2 separate regions of the Homo sapiens genome follow, and region 1 is linked to region 2. The links come from fine-mapping of genetic effects on gene expression. Tissue or cell type: whole blood. Region 2 holds a variant in brackets; the other region holds the start of a gene. All regions are shown on one strand. Distances are between the middles of the regions.

What was found. PIP is the estimated chance that this variant, and not a neighbour inherited with it, causes the effect.
Region 1: it holds the start of ETHE1, and the variant in region 2 is fine-mapped to the expression of ETHE1 in whole blood (TOPMed, PIP above 0.99).

The regions. Positions count from the first base shown.
Region 1 is chr19:43,523,835-43,531,935 of GRCh38, forward strand. ETHE1 (ETHE1 persulfide dioxygenase) reads right to left here and starts at 3,367. Exons shown (of 7, transcript NM_014297.5): 1 at 3,263-3,367; 2 at 2,681-2,825; 3 at 2,367-2,515. The coding sequence starts at 3,343. It also overlaps a transcript of ZNF575 not described here. RefSeq lists silencers at 1,819-1,978, 3,329-3,518, 7,321-7,492 and enhancers at 2,013-2,518, 2,519-3,023, 2,539-2,718.
Region 2 is chr19:43,401,318-43,409,418 of GRCh38, forward strand. It overlaps a transcript of TEX101 not described here and the pseudogene LOC110467528. Among named protein-coding and RNA genes, the nearest start is that of TEX101, 9.5 kb to the right of the region's middle. The variant A/C (reference allele first, on the strand shown) is at 3,160.

The DNA of each region.
Region 1 (8,101 bases), 120 kb after region 2:
CTGAGACAGCAGAATCGCTTGCGCTCAGGAGGCAGAGGCTGCAGTGAACTGAGAGCTTGCCATTGCACTCCAGCCTGGGTGACAGAGCAAGACTGTCTCAAAAAAATAAATAAAAATGTGCCTGGGCGCAGTGGCTCATGCCTGTAATCCCAACACTTTGGGAGGCCAGGGCGCGCGGATCACCTGAGATAGGGAGTTGGAGACCAGCCTGACCAATACGGAGAAACCCCGTCTCTACTAAAAATACAAAATTAGCTAGGCATGGTGGCGCATGCCTGTAATCCCAGCTACTCGGGAGGCTGAGGTTGCGCTAAGCTGAGATAGCGCCATTGCACTCCAGCCTGCGCAACAAGAGCAAAACTCCATCTCAAATAAATAAATAAATAAATAAAACAAAAAAATTTGCTGGGCTTGGTGGCGCACGCCTGTAATCCCTGCTATTTGGGAGGCTGAAACAAGAGAATCACTTGAACCCGGGAGGTGGAGGTTGCAGTAAACCAAGATCGCACCACTGCACTCTAGCTTGGGCAACAAAGTGAGACCCTGTCTCAAATTAAAAAAAAAAAAAAAAAAAAGTTGCCTAAGGCTGAGGGGGGAAAAGGGAAGGATAGGGGTGATGGCTAAGGGGTGTGGGGTCTTTTTGGAGTAATGGAAACATTTTCCAATTAATGGTAGTAATGGATGTACAACTCTGAATATACTAAAAGTCATTGAATTGTGCACTCGAAATAGATAAATTATATGGTATGTGGGTTATATCAATAAAGCTATTAAGCCTGGGCAACATAGTGAGATTACAGCTCAACAAAAAATTAAAAAATTAGCCAGGTATGGTGGCAGGTGCTTGTAGTCCCAGCTACTTAGGAGGCTGAGGCATGAGGATCACCTGAGCCCAGAAGGTCAAGGCTGCAGTAAGCTATGATCCCACCATTGCACTCCAGCCTGGGTGACAGAGCAAGACCTTTTCTCAAAAACAAACAAACAAACAACAACAACAAAAAAGGGTGGGTGCAGTGGCTCATGCCTGTAATCCCAGCACTTTCAGAAGCCCTGTAATCCTAGCACTTTAGGAGGCCAAGGTAGGAGGATCACTTGTGCCCAGTAGTTCAAGACCAGCCTGGGCAACATAACAAAACCCTGTCTCTACAAGAACATACACAAATCAGCCAGGCGTGCTGGTGCATGCCTGTGGTCCCAGCTACCAGGGAGGCTAAGGTGGGAGGATCACCTGAGCCTGGGAGGTCAAGGCTGACTGCACTCCAGCCTAGGTGACAGAGACCCAGTCTCAAATAAAAAAAAAAAAGAAAGAAAGAAAGAAAGAAAAAAAAAAAACACTGAAGCTAAATCTACCATAGCTAAACCCTTCGTTCATTTCAAGACATGTTTGTTAGCACCTATTATGTACAATGTACATACATGTACAATGCATTTTTGCCTGCTTCCAGAGAAAGGCTTGAAATAAAGCTTCTGTAACCATTGTAGCTGAACTCTCTTCCCACACACAGCCCTCATTTCCTCTAAACACTCTGACTCAAATGAACTGTCCCTATTTGGCAAAACTCTCTAACCTGGAGGCTGTCTTCTGTCACCTGACATTCTGTCCCCAAAGTCAGCCAAACTTTATTATACATCTTTAGCAATTGATCAGAAGAATGCCCTGCCAGCTGTTTCCCTCTCTCTGAGGGCAACTCCCCTGGCCCTCCCTCCTTCGGCCTGGTTGCAATTCTGGCCGGAAACCCGCTGGTGCCTGTGGCAAATAAAGTGAGGAAGGCAGGAACCTTTAGACTTCCCAGTGTGAGGCAACGGCAGGGCTAGGACTAGGGTGAGGCTGTTGGTGCAAGATTTAAGGAGGCGCTCACTCACAGGTGCGGACCCTGCACTTACAGGACCCTGAGAGCGAGTGCCTCCTTAAATGTTGCACTCCAGGGTCCTCACCGTCCTTTTCCTAGTCCTGGGCTCCGGGTTCTAAGCACCCAGATGCTCCTTCCTCAAACGGAGGTTTCCGCAAGACAGGACTGGGTCTCTTTCCTTCTCAGCCCTGCCCTCAGAATTCCAGCCCCTAATCAACTTTTATGGAGATGCATGCCAGGCCAAAGGGCTGCCCCTAAGCTTTAGGAAGGAAACTCCTTAAATGCTGTTGACTTAGGAGTTCCGCCAGTGCCCCACCTGCCCAGAGCCTCTTGCCCCAGTGCCCCACCTGGGTTTATGGTGCCCCCCTCCCAGAAATATGAGCTCAGGGGTCAGAAACCCAGGTCCTGAGGTCCCTCCTCCCCAAGGACTCAGGATCCCAGGCCCCCAGTCCCCTCTTCCCTTAAGTTTAAGAAGTCCAGGCCACCACCCTCTTGGGGACCCAGCACCCAACTCACGAAGCGCCCGAAGCGGATGGAGTCTCCATCCTCAATGTGTAAGTCAGCCTGGGCCCCACTAAGGCGGGAGATGACAGACTGGCAGCCAGGGAGGAGGGAACGGAGCAGCCCCGAGCCTGTAATGTGGTCCGCGTGGCAGTGGGTATTCACTGGGAGAGAGAGGAGGGACAGGTCCGGAGGGTACAGAAAGGACCTGGGAGTCCCAGCCCAGATCCTTCTCCCTCAGACTCAGGAGTTCTGGGCCCCAGCTTCCCATTCCACTGACGCTGCAGCCCAGCCCCGCTGGGATCCATGAGTTTGGTCCCCGGACTGACCAGCATAGAGCAGCCGCAGCCCCAGCTCCTTGATCAGCTGGGCATCCCGAGGCGCTGTTTCCAGGACTGGGTCGATCAGAACGGCCTCCCGGGACTCTCTGTCACCCAGCAGGTACGTGAAGGTGCAGCTCACAGGCTCGAACATCTGGGAACGGGGGACCCAGGTGAGGGCGCAGAACCGGACTTCCACCCACTGGAGGCCAAGTAGTCCAGACTGACCCTATCCTCTTCCTAAGATCCAGAAGCAGAAACCCCAGCCCACTCTTTCCCCGGGAGTCGGGAGTCCGGAGCCCCACTACCTTCCCCTATCAGAACAAAAGAGTTCCAACTTCCTAACATCCCAAAATCAGGGTCCCCAGCACGTTCTTTCATAGAGGACCCAGGGGTCTGGCCCCAAGCCCAGAGGCCCCCAGACCACTCACCTTTAAAGGACCCAAGAGTCCAGCCCTAAACCTCCACCCCGCTTTCCGCAAGATGCAGGCGTGGGTCCCCCCGGATCTCTCCCTATTAAGAGACCCCGGAGTTCCGTCCTTGCTGCCGCCTAGTGCCCAGCAGTCCCCTCCTAGGTCCAGCCACCCGCACCTGCCGCAGGAGGATGGGGGCTCCAGACCCGCCGCGCTGGCTCAGCTGCCGCCGGGCGACCCTCAGTACAGCCTCCGCCATCGCGCCCACTGCGGGGTCAGGAATGAGCGGAGGCCGAGCGCCTGCAGGAGCCGGGCGCTACGGCACTGACCCCGGGAAGGGCGGGGCGGGGGCGGAGCACGCCTTAAAGGGGCCACGGACGCCTGGGGCAGAGGGCGGGGGACCGCCGAGCGGGACTGGGGCGAGGGCGAGACCGAGGAAAGCCAGAGTGCAATGCCTGGACGCTTTGAGACCCAGAAAAAACAGAGAACAGGGAGACACTCAAAGTGCGAGGGACAGACGCTCAGAGACACACAGACATACTCATGTAGGAACAGAGATAGGGAGAGAAGTAGAAACCCAGGGAGAGGCCCCAGTACACTCATAGCCTCGGGGCCGTTTTTTTTCCTTTTTCTTTTGTTTTATTTTGAGACAGAGTCTCGCTCTGTCACGCAGGCTTGAGTGCAGTGACTCGATCTCAGCTTACTACAGCCTTAAACTCCCGGGTTCAAGCGATCCTCCAACCTCAGCCTCCCGAGTAGCTGGGACTATGGCACGTTGCCACCACACCCGACATTTTATATATATATATTTATATCTATATATATATTTATATACATATATATATATACACACACACACACACATACATGTATATAAAATTTGTTTTTTGCAGAGACGGAGTTCTCACTATGTTGCCCAGGCTGATCTCGAACTCCTGAGCTCAAGCGTTCCTCCCACCTTGTCCTCCCAAAGTGCTGGGATTACAGACGTGAGCCACCGCGTCCCGTGGGGCCGTTTTCTAGCAGGTGGTAGGATAGTCATGGTTAGAAAAAGATGTTCGGTTCCGGGAGGCAGAGGTTGCAGTGAGTAGAGATGACGCCACTGCACTCCAGCCTGGGCGACAGAGGGAGACTCTGTCTCAAAAAAAAAAGATATTCGTTCGGTTCCAGGTCATTAATATCTTGAGGGACTTTTGAGTGGGTGCCTGGTTACCAGAACAACACTTGATCCCATTAAAGTTCATCCAGAAATTGCATAAGCATTTTATCAGGAATGTTTCTCTCTTTCCAGGAAGAAATCTTAAAAAAAAAAAAAAAGATAATTTTGCATTATCTCTTGAATAATCAGATTGGGGATTATTCATCTTCTGTTGGGGTGTGAACCTCTGAAAAGAGCTTGTGTTCATTTACACCAAGGACCTGGGGCTGAAAAACTGTAGTCTCAAGTCATGAGCTGTCAGAAAGTCTGCTCTTTGTAATCGTAGCAGTAGTGAGAATAGGACATCCCACTCTCATCTGGAGGATCTATGTCACTTTGTGACATCAGAGCAGCCTTGATTTCCAGCCTAGGGGCAGAGCTTTTTTTTTTTTTTTTAATTGTTAGAATTTTTTTTGTAGAAACAGGGGTCTTGCTATGTTGCCTAGGCTGGTCTCCAGCTCCTGGCCTCAAATGGTCCTCCCACCTGGGCCTCCCAAAATGCTGGGATTACAGGTATGAACCACTGAGTTATCCTGTCCCACAGCTTCTGAGGAGGGGTTTCCTGCAACAACATTTATCTTAATTCTGGAGTTTCCAGGGAATGGTCCCTGGAGCTATTTTCAGAGCAGCCCCTGTGTGAATGCCTTTACACAGAGAAGGCCTGCTTTTCCTTAAGCCTATCAAATTGCTTCATTAAAATTTTATGTGGCCGGCTGGGCGCGGTGGCTCATGCCTGTAATCCCAGCACTTTGGGAGGCTGAGGCGGGCGGATCACGAGGTCAGGAGTTCAAGACCAGCCTGACCAACATGGTGAAACACCATCTCTACTAAAAATATAAAAATTAGCTGGGTGTGGTGGTGCACACCTGTTATCCCAGCTACTCAGGAGGCTGAGGCAGGAGAATTGCCTGAACTCGGGAGGTGGAGGTTGCAGTGAGCTGAGATCGTGCCACTGCATTCCAGCCTGGGTGATGGAGACTCCATCTCAAAAAAAAAAAAAAAAAAAAAAAAAAAGCATATGGCTGAGCTCATGCACAGGCACTTTGAGCACTTTGGGAGGCCTAGGTGGGCAGATCACTTGAGGTCAAGAGTTTGAGACAGCCTGGCCAACATGGTAAAACCCCATCTCTACTGAAAAAAATAAAATAAAATACAAAAAAATTATCTGGGCGTGGTGGGGCACGCCTGTAGACCCAGCTACTTGGGAAGCTGAGGCATGAGAATCATTTGAACCCAAGAGGCAGAGGTTGCAGAGTTTGCAGTGATCCAAGATTGCACCTCTGCAACATAGCAAAACCCTGTCTGGGCAACAGAGCGAGAGTGTCTAAAAAAAAAAGGCCAGGTGCGGTGGCTCACGCCTGTAATCCCAGCACTTTGGGAGGCCAAGGCGGGTGGATCACGAGGTCAGGAGATTGAGACCATCCTGGCTAACACGGTGAAACCCCGTCTCTACTCAAAAAAAATACAAAAAATTAGCCGGGCATGGTGGCGGATGCCTGTAGTCCCAGCTACTCTCGAGGCTGAGGCAGAAGAATGGCGTGAACCCGGGAGGCGGAGCTTGCAGTGAGCCGGGATCGTGCCACTGCACTCCAGCCTGGACGACAGAGCGAGACTCCGTCTCAAAAAAAAAAAAAATTCCAGGCATGAGGTCTCATGCATGCCTGACTCAAGCTAGACAAAGCTGAGGACCCAGAGGTGACTCAGTCTGGCTGGTAGGCGAGAGAGGTAGGGAAAGCAGGTCTGAGACACAGGGAGGTGTAGGGATTTGGGGAACTCAGGGGAGGGAGGAGCCAGGGAAAGGAAGACCCTCAGGCACTCCTTACTGAGAGGGTCCCCCAAATAAGAACTTCTCGCCCCTGGCACCCTTTCCCGTTGTTTTTGCAGAATTTCTAGACCATTTATGTGTCCTTTGAAGACACACCCTAGGCAGGGTTTATAGGCTCAGCTGTGAGATGTTCTAAGAGTTAGACTTGGCTTCACCCTTCTCAGGTGTAGGACCTTGGGCTGAAAACTTATCTTCTTCTGGGTTCCAGTTTTCTTATCTACAAAATGAGGTTGAAAATAGTTCAATAGCCTGACATAGCACAGGCTCTCAATGGGAACTGCCCATCATTATTTTGTCACTATCCTTGACTCCTTCCTACCCTTGCCACCTCCACCCACTTCCAGGCCCTGCTGAGTTAAACTCTCTCTCTTTTTTTTTTTTTTTTTTTTTGAGATGGAGTCTTGCTCTGTTGCCCAGGCTAGAGTGCGGTGGTGCAATCTCAGCTCACTGCAACCTCCGCCTCCTGGGTTCCAGAGATTCTTCTGCCCCAGCCTCCCAAGTAGCTGGGATTACAGGTGCACACCACCACACCCAGCTAATTTTTGTAGTTTTAGTAAAGATGGGGTTTCACCATGTTGGCCAGGCTGGTCTGGAACTCCTGACCCCAAGTAATCCACCTGCCTCAGCCTCCCAAAGTGCTGGGATTACAGGGCCGAGCCACCGTGCCCAGCCAGATTTAACCTATCTTAACCAGGCCACTTTTCTGTTATCACACCCTCTGCCCCATTCAAGGGGCAGCAAAGCATAAATGCAAATTGCCTGGACTGCAGGGCCAGGCTGAGGGATTCAAATCCTGGCTCTGATACTTCCTGGCTGGGATGACCTTCCCCTCCACACTTCATTTTCCTCCTCTGTACAAGGATGATAGTAGCACCTCCTCTTAAAACATTGCTATGGGGATTAAATAAATTAATGCACATAAGGACAGTTTCCAGTGTATAATAAGTGCTAGCAATTAATACTGTAATTAATATATAACAATACCCTCACTGGTCTTCTGGCTTCTACTCTGCCTTCTTAAAATCATGGTTCTTGAAAATAGCTGTGGCCCTAGAGGTTGGGCGCGGTGGCTCACACCTGAAATCCCAGCACCATGGGAGGCCGAAGTGGGCGGATCACCTGAGGTCAGGAGTTTGAGACCAGCCTGGCCAACATGGTGAAACTCCATCTTTACCAAAAATACAAAAAAAAAAAAAAAAATTAGCCAGGCGTGGTGACGGGCACCTGTAATCCCAGCTACTCAGGACGTTGAAGCAGGAGAATCACTTGAACCTGGGAGGTGGAGGTTACAGTGGGCTGATATCTCGCCACTGCACACCAGCTTGGGTGACAGAGCAAGACTCCGTGCAAAAAAAGAAAGAGGTGGGCACAGTGGCTCACCCCTGTAATCCCAGCACTTTGGGAGGCCAAGACGGGTGGATCACGAGGTCAGGAGATCGAGACCAGCCTGGCCAACATGGTGAAACCCTGTCTCTACTAAAAATACAAAAATTAGCTGGGTGTTGTGGTGAACACCTGTAATCCCAGCTACTTGGGAGGCTGAAGCAGGAGAATCGCTTGAACTCGGGAGGCAGAGGTTGCAGTGAGCCAAGATTGCGCCACTGCACTCCAGCCTGGGGGACACAGCGAGATTCCATCTCAAAAAAAAGAGAGAGAGAGAGACCGAAGTGTCACTTCAAACTAATACAATGTGTGGAGCTCATTTAGATCTTAAGTCAAGCAAATCAAGTGTAATAAAAAGATATTTATGAGATATGATGTTTGACATTTAGCTTCAGAATCATTTGGGAAGAGTGGATGGGGGGTAAATCAAACAATACTGGTCATGAGTGAATAATTATTTTAAAAACTTTTTTTTTAAAGATACGGGGTATCACTCTGTTGCGCAGGCTGGAATGCAGTAACACAATCATAGCTCATTGCAGACATGAACTCCTGGGTGAGTCCCCACTCCCTACCCCCGTGAAATAGCTGGGACTACAGGCTGCCATTAA
Region 2 (8,101 bases):
ATTAAGGTTTAGGTATAGGTCAATTAACAAACCTATACAGTCCTCACAGAGTCACACACTCTAGTTCCAATTCCTCCTTTTAGGCACAAGCAAGTTGTCACATTCTTTGTAATGGTTCACTTTGACCATTAATGGTATTGAACAACAGCAGCAAGTTTAAATACCCTTTCATTTACAGAACCATCCATCCCATCAGGGAAATATGCAACATGCTTCAAAGAATAAGAAGAGAACTTTGGGCCAGGTGCGTGGCTGAGGGCCGGGAGTGGTGGCTTGCGCCTATAATCCCAGAATTTTGGGAGGCCAAGGCAGGCAGATCTGAGGTTGGGAGTTCGAGACCAACCTGACCAACATGGAGAAACTCTGTCTCTACTAAAAATACAAAATCAGCCGGGTGTGGTAGCAAATGCCTGTAATCCCAGCTACTCAGGAGGCTGAGGCAGGAGAATAGCTTGAACCCGGGAGGCGGTAAGCTGGAGATTGTGCCATTGCACTCCAGCCTGGGCAACAACAGCAAAACTCTGTCTCAAAAAAAAAAAAGAGAAAACTTAAAAGCCCAGATTCTACTCATAAAAATACGAATGGAGAAAAGCAAGTAGTGTCTGTGCAACACAGTGCAGTATATTGTACAGAATATTTTTAAGGCCACGGCAGTCTATGAATTAAAACTGGTATTCATTAAAAGAACTTACTGTAGACTAAACTCTGAGTGCTCAACACGTTTGGAAATGCAGTCTACATAAGTGCTGCTTAACAAAAGAAAAAATCACACGCAGTGTGAGGCAACACATAAGCGGGTGTCCCATAGTGTTTAAGCTACTACAGTGGTCTATATGAATAATAATTTACAACTGAACCAGTATGAATATGTCCCTTTATGTATACAGAAGTCACTAAACTACAAAACATGTTCATTTGAAGTTTTTAGACATCTCTGTATCATAGAAGCAAACGAACAGCATCAGTTCCTCAGTTCTCTGTGTGATTGATTATTAACCTGTAGATGTTGAACATGATTACATTAGATTAAGCAGGCAGGTCTAGAGTTGTCACAATAATCAAGATGTCTAATGGCACCAGTCAAAAGAGTGCCAAACCTTACATCAATAAAAGAGAAAAATAAAATTTTGTATTTGTTTATAAGTATCTTTTGTGCTGAAAGTCAACTTTATGGCTGGATGTAAAAAGTCGGGAATTACAGTGTCATGCAGCAGCACTGGTTTAATGACTGGAGATAGAACAAACAGATGTTTGAACTAAATCTGACTTTTTTTTTTTTTTGAGATGGAGTCTCACTCTGTCGCCCAGGCTGGACTACAGTGGCACAATCTCGGTTCACTGCAAGCTCCGCCTCCTGGGTTCACGCCATTCTCCTGCCTCAGCCTCCTGAGTAGCTGGGACTACAGGCGCCCGCCACCACAGCCGGCTAATTTTTTTGTATTTTTTAGTAGAGACGGGGTTTCACCGTGTTAGCCAGGATGGTCTCGATCTCCTGACCTCGTGATCCGCCTGCCTTGGCCTCCCAAAGTGCTGGGATTACAGGTATGAGCCACCGCGTCCAGCCTAAATCTGACATTCTTAACAGTTTTTATTATATTGGGTGGAATGCTCTAAATTCATGAAAGCTTTTGAGAAAATCTTCAATTCTTAACCCCTTAAAAAAGTATGCTGAACCAGAAAGAAAAAACAAAAGATAGAAATAATGATCTGGACAGATGCAAAACAGCATGCGTTAGTTCCTCCCATATCCCAACTGCCATCTGGCGATAAAGAGTTCTCAGAAAGCAGAATGTCTTTAATATCCCTCAGGTAGGATCTCACCAGTGTAAAGAATCAACATTGATCTGGTGCCTCCACTCACTCTCTGTGGACCGTATTGGATTCCTAAGATGTAATTATACATTTCACATGCATTTGTGAGATAAGATAAACATTATGTTTACATATATCCCACCTGAGTCATTCAGGCTTAAAGGTTTTCTAAATACTGTGTGCGGCACTAGAAACTTCATGCTGTATCAGTGAATTATCACAAGGACAGAAAACCAAACACCACATGTTCTCACTCATAGGTGGGAATTGAACAATGAGAACACTTGGACACCGGGGCCTGTCTTGGAGTTGGGGGCTGGGGGAGGGATAGCATTAGGAGAAATACCTAATGTAAATGACAAGCTCATGGGTGCAGCAAACCAGCATGGCACATGTATACCTATGTATCAAACCTGCACGTTGTGCACATGTACCCTAGAACTTAAAGTATAATAATAATTTAAAAAAGGAAATACCAATATTATTAGCCTTTAACCCTAATTCAGAATAAACTAAATGTTCTAATTGATTTTAAAAAAAAAAAGGAAAAAGAAAAAGAAACTTCATGCTGTATCAAGTCAATGTCAGTATTAAGCTACTGGACTCTATGAAATATTATAGATAGACATTTACTGAAAACCAATATAAAAATCTGGCCCACAAAGACCAGAATGGAAATATCCAATTTTCTTGATTTAAGATGGTCAAAACCATCCTGGCTAACACAATGAAACCCTGTCTCTACTAAAAATGCAAAAAATTAGCCGGGCATGGTGGCGGGCACCTGTAGTCCCAGCTACTCGGGAGGCTGAGGCAGGAGAATGGCATGAAGCCAGGAGGTGGAGCGTGCAGTGAGCCAAGATCACGCCACTGCACTCCAGCCTGGGCAACAGAGTGAGACTCTGGCTCAAAAAAAAAAAGATGGTCAAAAGTGTGTGGGTTTTTTTTTTTTTTTTTGGAAAAAAAAAAAGCTCTACACATGATTTAAGACAGGTATGTGTAAGAAGCCTTTTTGTGTGTGCTGGCTTTATCACGACAACTCTGGCTGATTCTTTATGAAGGATTAGGGATACTCATCTTCAGCAGTGCACGTGAGAAGTAAACTCTGAAAAAGGCAATTTCTTGGGTTTAGGAAGGACTGTATTCTGGGAATTACTTCAGAGGAATGGGCAATAATTCTAGGATTATACCCAAGAAGGACTGGAAGCCTTCAGGAGATGCTTCAGCTTCTTCTAGATTTTGAATGCTCAATAAGCCACTGAAATGTGATATCTATATTATATTACATATGTTTATGTATTAGCATTTCACCCCTCTTTGGAAAGGGATAGCATTTTAATATATAAT[A/C]TACTACAATTTGTTTGTTATCTTCCAACCTTTTATTTTGAAAGTTTTCAAGCCCATAGAAAAGGTGGAAGAATTGTACAATGAACCCCTTATATATTTCACCAAGATTCACCAATTGTTAACATTTTGCCACATTTGCTTGATTGATTTTTTAATTTTTTTCTATCAATCTAGATACATGTGTATGTATGTGTGTGCGTGTATCCTAATTATTTGCCTGTGTATACACAGAAAGAAAGAATGAAAAATATACATAATAATAAATTATATATATGTTAGGTGAATATATAAATATATATATACTTAAGTTGTGTGCACTTTACTCTGTTTTTTATGTCATAATTTAAAATTTTAAAATATATAAGAAATAAATAAGCCTGAAACAAAGGTATTTTCAGCAAAATAAAAATAGAGACACTTCATCAACAGCTGATTCCCACTGAGACATATATTTCAGAAAGGAGAGAACTGATCACAGATAGAAGGTATGGGACGCAAAAAGTAATGAAGAGAAAAGAAAGTGGCAAATACACGTTAAAATGTAAATGTACTTGGTATAAATAGTGCTAATGATATCTAGTGGGATTATACAAAGATACACTAAAAATTCCCTGCAAGGTTAGTTAGTATGTAATTCAGGGTGAGTAGGCAAATTGGTGAAGCTAAGTAAATCTAAGGTCATTTTATTATTCAGGAAAAAGGCAAAGGTTTAAATTGACTTTAGACTTTGATAAATGAATTATGCGTGCTGGAATTTCTAGCCTATTTCCCAAACAAAGATTATCAGAGTGGATTAGGAAGGCAAGATCTGGCCTGGTGTGGTGGCTCACACCTGTAATCCCAGCACTTTGGGGGGCCGAGGTGGGTGGATCACCTGAGGTCAGGAGTTGTCTACCAGCCTGGCCAACATAGTGAATATAATGAAACCCCATCTCTACTAAAAATACAAAAATTAGCCTGGCGAGGTGGCACATCTCTGTAATCCCAGGTACTTGGGAGCCTGAGGCAGGCTTGAACCTGGGAGGCAGAAGTTGCAGTGAGCCAAGACCATGACAAGAACAAAACTCTGTCTCAAAAAAAAAAAAAAAAAAAAAAAAAAGAGGCAAAGACAAAGACAAGATCCAATAATAAATTATTTATTTAAAAACACATCTAAAATGGAAGGAGGTTGGGTGCGGTGACTCACGCCTGTAATCCCAGCATTTTGGGAGGCCAAGGCAGGTGGATCACTGGAAGTCAGGAGTTTGAGACCAGCCTGACCAACATGGTGAAACCCCGTCTCTAGAAAAATTAGCTGGGCGTGGTGGCATGTGCTGTAATCCCAGCTATTCGGGAGACTGAGGCAGGAGAACTGCTTGAACCCAGGAGGCGGAGGTTGCAGTGAGCTGAGATCGTGCCAGTGCAATCCAGCCTGGGGGACCCAGCAAGACTCCATCTCAAAAAAATACGATAAAATAAAATGGAAGGATACACAATTGTTGACTATAAAAGGATGGGAAAAGATATTTCATGTAATAAGAAAGCCAGCATATAAGAGGCAGGAGGATCACTTGAGGCCAGGAGTTTGAGACCAGCCCGGACAACATAAGGAGACCCTGTCTCTACAAAAAAAAAAAAAAAAAAAAGCCAGATGCCTGGCTCACGCCTGTAATCCTAGCACTTTGGGAGGCACCTTGGGACTGTTGAATTAAAACAAAACACAGCTTAGGCTGCTGTGGGTATTGACGACTTGTGATTTCTGTGCAGGGCACTGAATGTCAAAGTGAAGGAATTCAATGAAGCCCGGATCAAGGGCAGGAGCAACCGTGACCCTCTTAAAAGAGCCAATGCCCCATGTAATTAGTGACGCGCGCGAATGGATAGACGCTATTCCCACCGTCCCTACATAGCATCCAGCGACACCACAGCCAAGGGACAGGCTTGGCGGAACCTGCGGGAGAGAAGAACCCTCTGAGCCTGATTGAAAGGCGGTGAAGAGACAGGAGAGGGGGATCGGTGGGCGGTCCCGCCTCCATCTTCAGTTCCCGCATGGGGGCGAGGCAGGTACATGGGCCTTGCGGGCTGTGGGTGAAATTCCATTATTAATTGTTTTTTCACTAACCTGGTGGGGGAGTCGGGCGCGAGTTTCGAGAGAGACTCTGGCTTCTGGCGCCAAGCCTTAGCCAAGCTCACCAGGGGCAGCGCTAGATGGGGAGACTGGGACACACGTCTGAACGCAGATGTCCGAAGGGAGCGCAGGAAGACAGAAGCCTCCCGTTGGGCAGGAGGGCAAAAGCTCCTGGGTCTTGGATTTGCAACAGGAGTTCAGACGGTGAAAGCAGGGCCTCAGGATCCTTCTGACCTTTTGAGTTTTAAACAAGGGGTGTCAGAAAAGTCGTCACAGGGATAACTGATTTGCAGCAGGAAAGCATTCATAGGAATGAGGCTTCTTTTTGTTTTTTGTCTTTGTTTTTTGTTTTTTTTTTTTTTTTTGACAGGGTCTCATTCTGTGGCACAGGCTGGAGTGCAGTGGTGCCACCATTGCTCACTGCGCTATGTGAGCTATGTGATCGGCGCTTAAGTGATACTCTCGCCTCAGCCTCCAAAATAAATGGGACCGCAGGCCTGAGCCACCATGTCCTGTGGCTTTTTAATCCTTTTGATCCTTGGATGTGGGCTCTTCCTATCATTGGAAGACAGAATTCACCAAGGTTGGGATGTTCACCCACTCAGAAAACCTGAGCTGGGGCTGGGGCTGTGGCTCACGCCTATAATCCCAGCACTTTGGTAGGCCAAGGCGGGCGAATCACCTGAGGTTGGAAGTTCGAGGCCAGCCTGGCCAACATGGTGAAACCCCCATCTCTACTGAAAATACAAAAATTAGCCGGGCGTGGTGGCGCATGCCTGTAATCCCAGCTACTCGGGAGGCTGAGGCAGGAGAATCACTTGAACCAGGGAGGCAGAGGTTGCAGTGAGCTGAGACGGTGTCACTGCACTCCAGCCTGGGCAACAAGAGCGAAACTTCGTCAAAAAAAAAAAAAAGGAAGAAAGAAGAAAAGGAAAGAAAAGAAAGCCGGAGCTGGGATTAGACCATGTGAGACAGGTTGATTTCACGCTAGTGAGCATGCGTGGTTGCCATGGTGCTCTTGCCCAGTACCACAGGTCCCCAGGTTCAGACGTTTGGTGCCTGTGCTTGGATGAGGGACCACTGGGCTAAGCTGCCATCCGTGGGATGCTGACTAAAGGCCTCCAAGTCAGAATATGCCCAGGCAGAACTATAGGGCAGCGCCATGAAGCCTCGGCTGGCCTGGGATAGCCGGTCGTCGCCAACAGGACGCAGTGCAGCAGGGTTGAGGCCCCATGCGGAGAGCTCATTGTCTTGGGAAACCGGCAGTGGGAAGGGTGGCCGGCCCCTCGCCCTTCACGCAAGGCCCATTCGTGGGGAACCTGGCGCTAAACCATCCCTAGAGGAGCTGCTTCTGGGTCCGAGTTTTCTCTGCAGCAGAGTGGCTCCCTGGATGGGATCTGTTGAAAGTTAGCCCTCCACACAGGCGTGTGTCCGCTTCGCAGCGTGTGTGCAGAGCCATCAATCCTTCCTTCCTCAATCCCGGGGGTCTCCCGCGTCCCCATACCCCCACCCCGGCCTCTGGTATGGGAACCAGTGACGTCTCTCCCGTGAGCCTGCCCGAGCCCGCAATGCCCTCAGGAGGCGCCCGCCCCGCCCTCTGGGCTTTCCGAGGGCTGCAAGGAACATGCGCTTCCGGGGGTGGAGAGGCGGTGAGGGCCGCCCCCGCAGCGTCCTGTTTGGGAGCCAGGTCTTCTCCTCGTTCTGCCCGGGCTCGACCAGGGGCTAGATCGGGGTTCGGGGAGCGAACAAGGCACGTCGGAGGGTGGCCCGGTGGCCCCTATTCGAGGGGTGGCTGTGGGCCAGGAGGTAGCGGTGGCGGCGGCCTCGCCTGTGGCCATCTGAGCCGTGGGCCGGTAGGCGGGGAGGAGAAGAGGGTCCGGCCGGTCACCGCCCTTGCACGCCTCCTCCTCTTAAAAATAAATAAATAAATAAATGGCGAGTTGGGGGTGGACAGGGATGTTTTAGTGCTGTGCGTGCGTTCTGGAGCCACACCACCCTCTAGAACCAGGGCCACAACCACCCGTGACGCCCACCGTGAGAAGTGCCCTCTCCCAGAAGGGCCTGCACCAGAGACCTTGGTCTTTGTTCTTTTTGGAGAGATCTGTGCAGATCGAGGTCACTCCAGCCCTGGATTCAGGGAGGGCTGCACTATCAGAGAAAGACAGCTTCAGCGAGGCCTCACAGTGAGTCAGACCAGACTCTTCCCATCCCCAAGATCCCTGGACTATGGGGCATCATCCTGGGATCCCTAAGGTCACATGGGAAACTTCTCAAGCACCGATGCTGCCATCTGATACTGTGGCCTGATCCCACCCCTGGACACCTGGAAATTCTCATGAACCCGTGGAGGCCTGGTGCTACCTGAAACTGTGACCTCATTCTACTTCCAACTCACAAGTTGAAGCGTAGATTTACATGCAGTCAAATCAATAATTAGATTAATTGGCTGACTAAAGGAAAAACTTCAGACACGTTAAATTTAACACAGTTTAATTGAGTAATGAATGATGCATTAATCAGGTAGCCCCCAGACCCAGAGTAGGTTCAGAGAAACTTCAGGGTGTTCCGTCCATAAATGGTTGGATAACATCTACCGCAGAAGAAAGTGATGTAGAAGAAACTAAGGAAGGCACTGAAATAGCTGGACTGCTAACAGTTGGGTGCTTGCCTTATTTGAACCAGGTTTGAACAGTTAGTTGGGTACCTGTGATTGGCTGAGACTCAGCTATTTTTACTATAGCAGGTTACAGACTGTTTACACATCAAGTTAGGTTACAGTTCACTATGTATGGAGAAACCATTAGACCAAACTTAAAGTAGTAGGGAGGCAGCTTT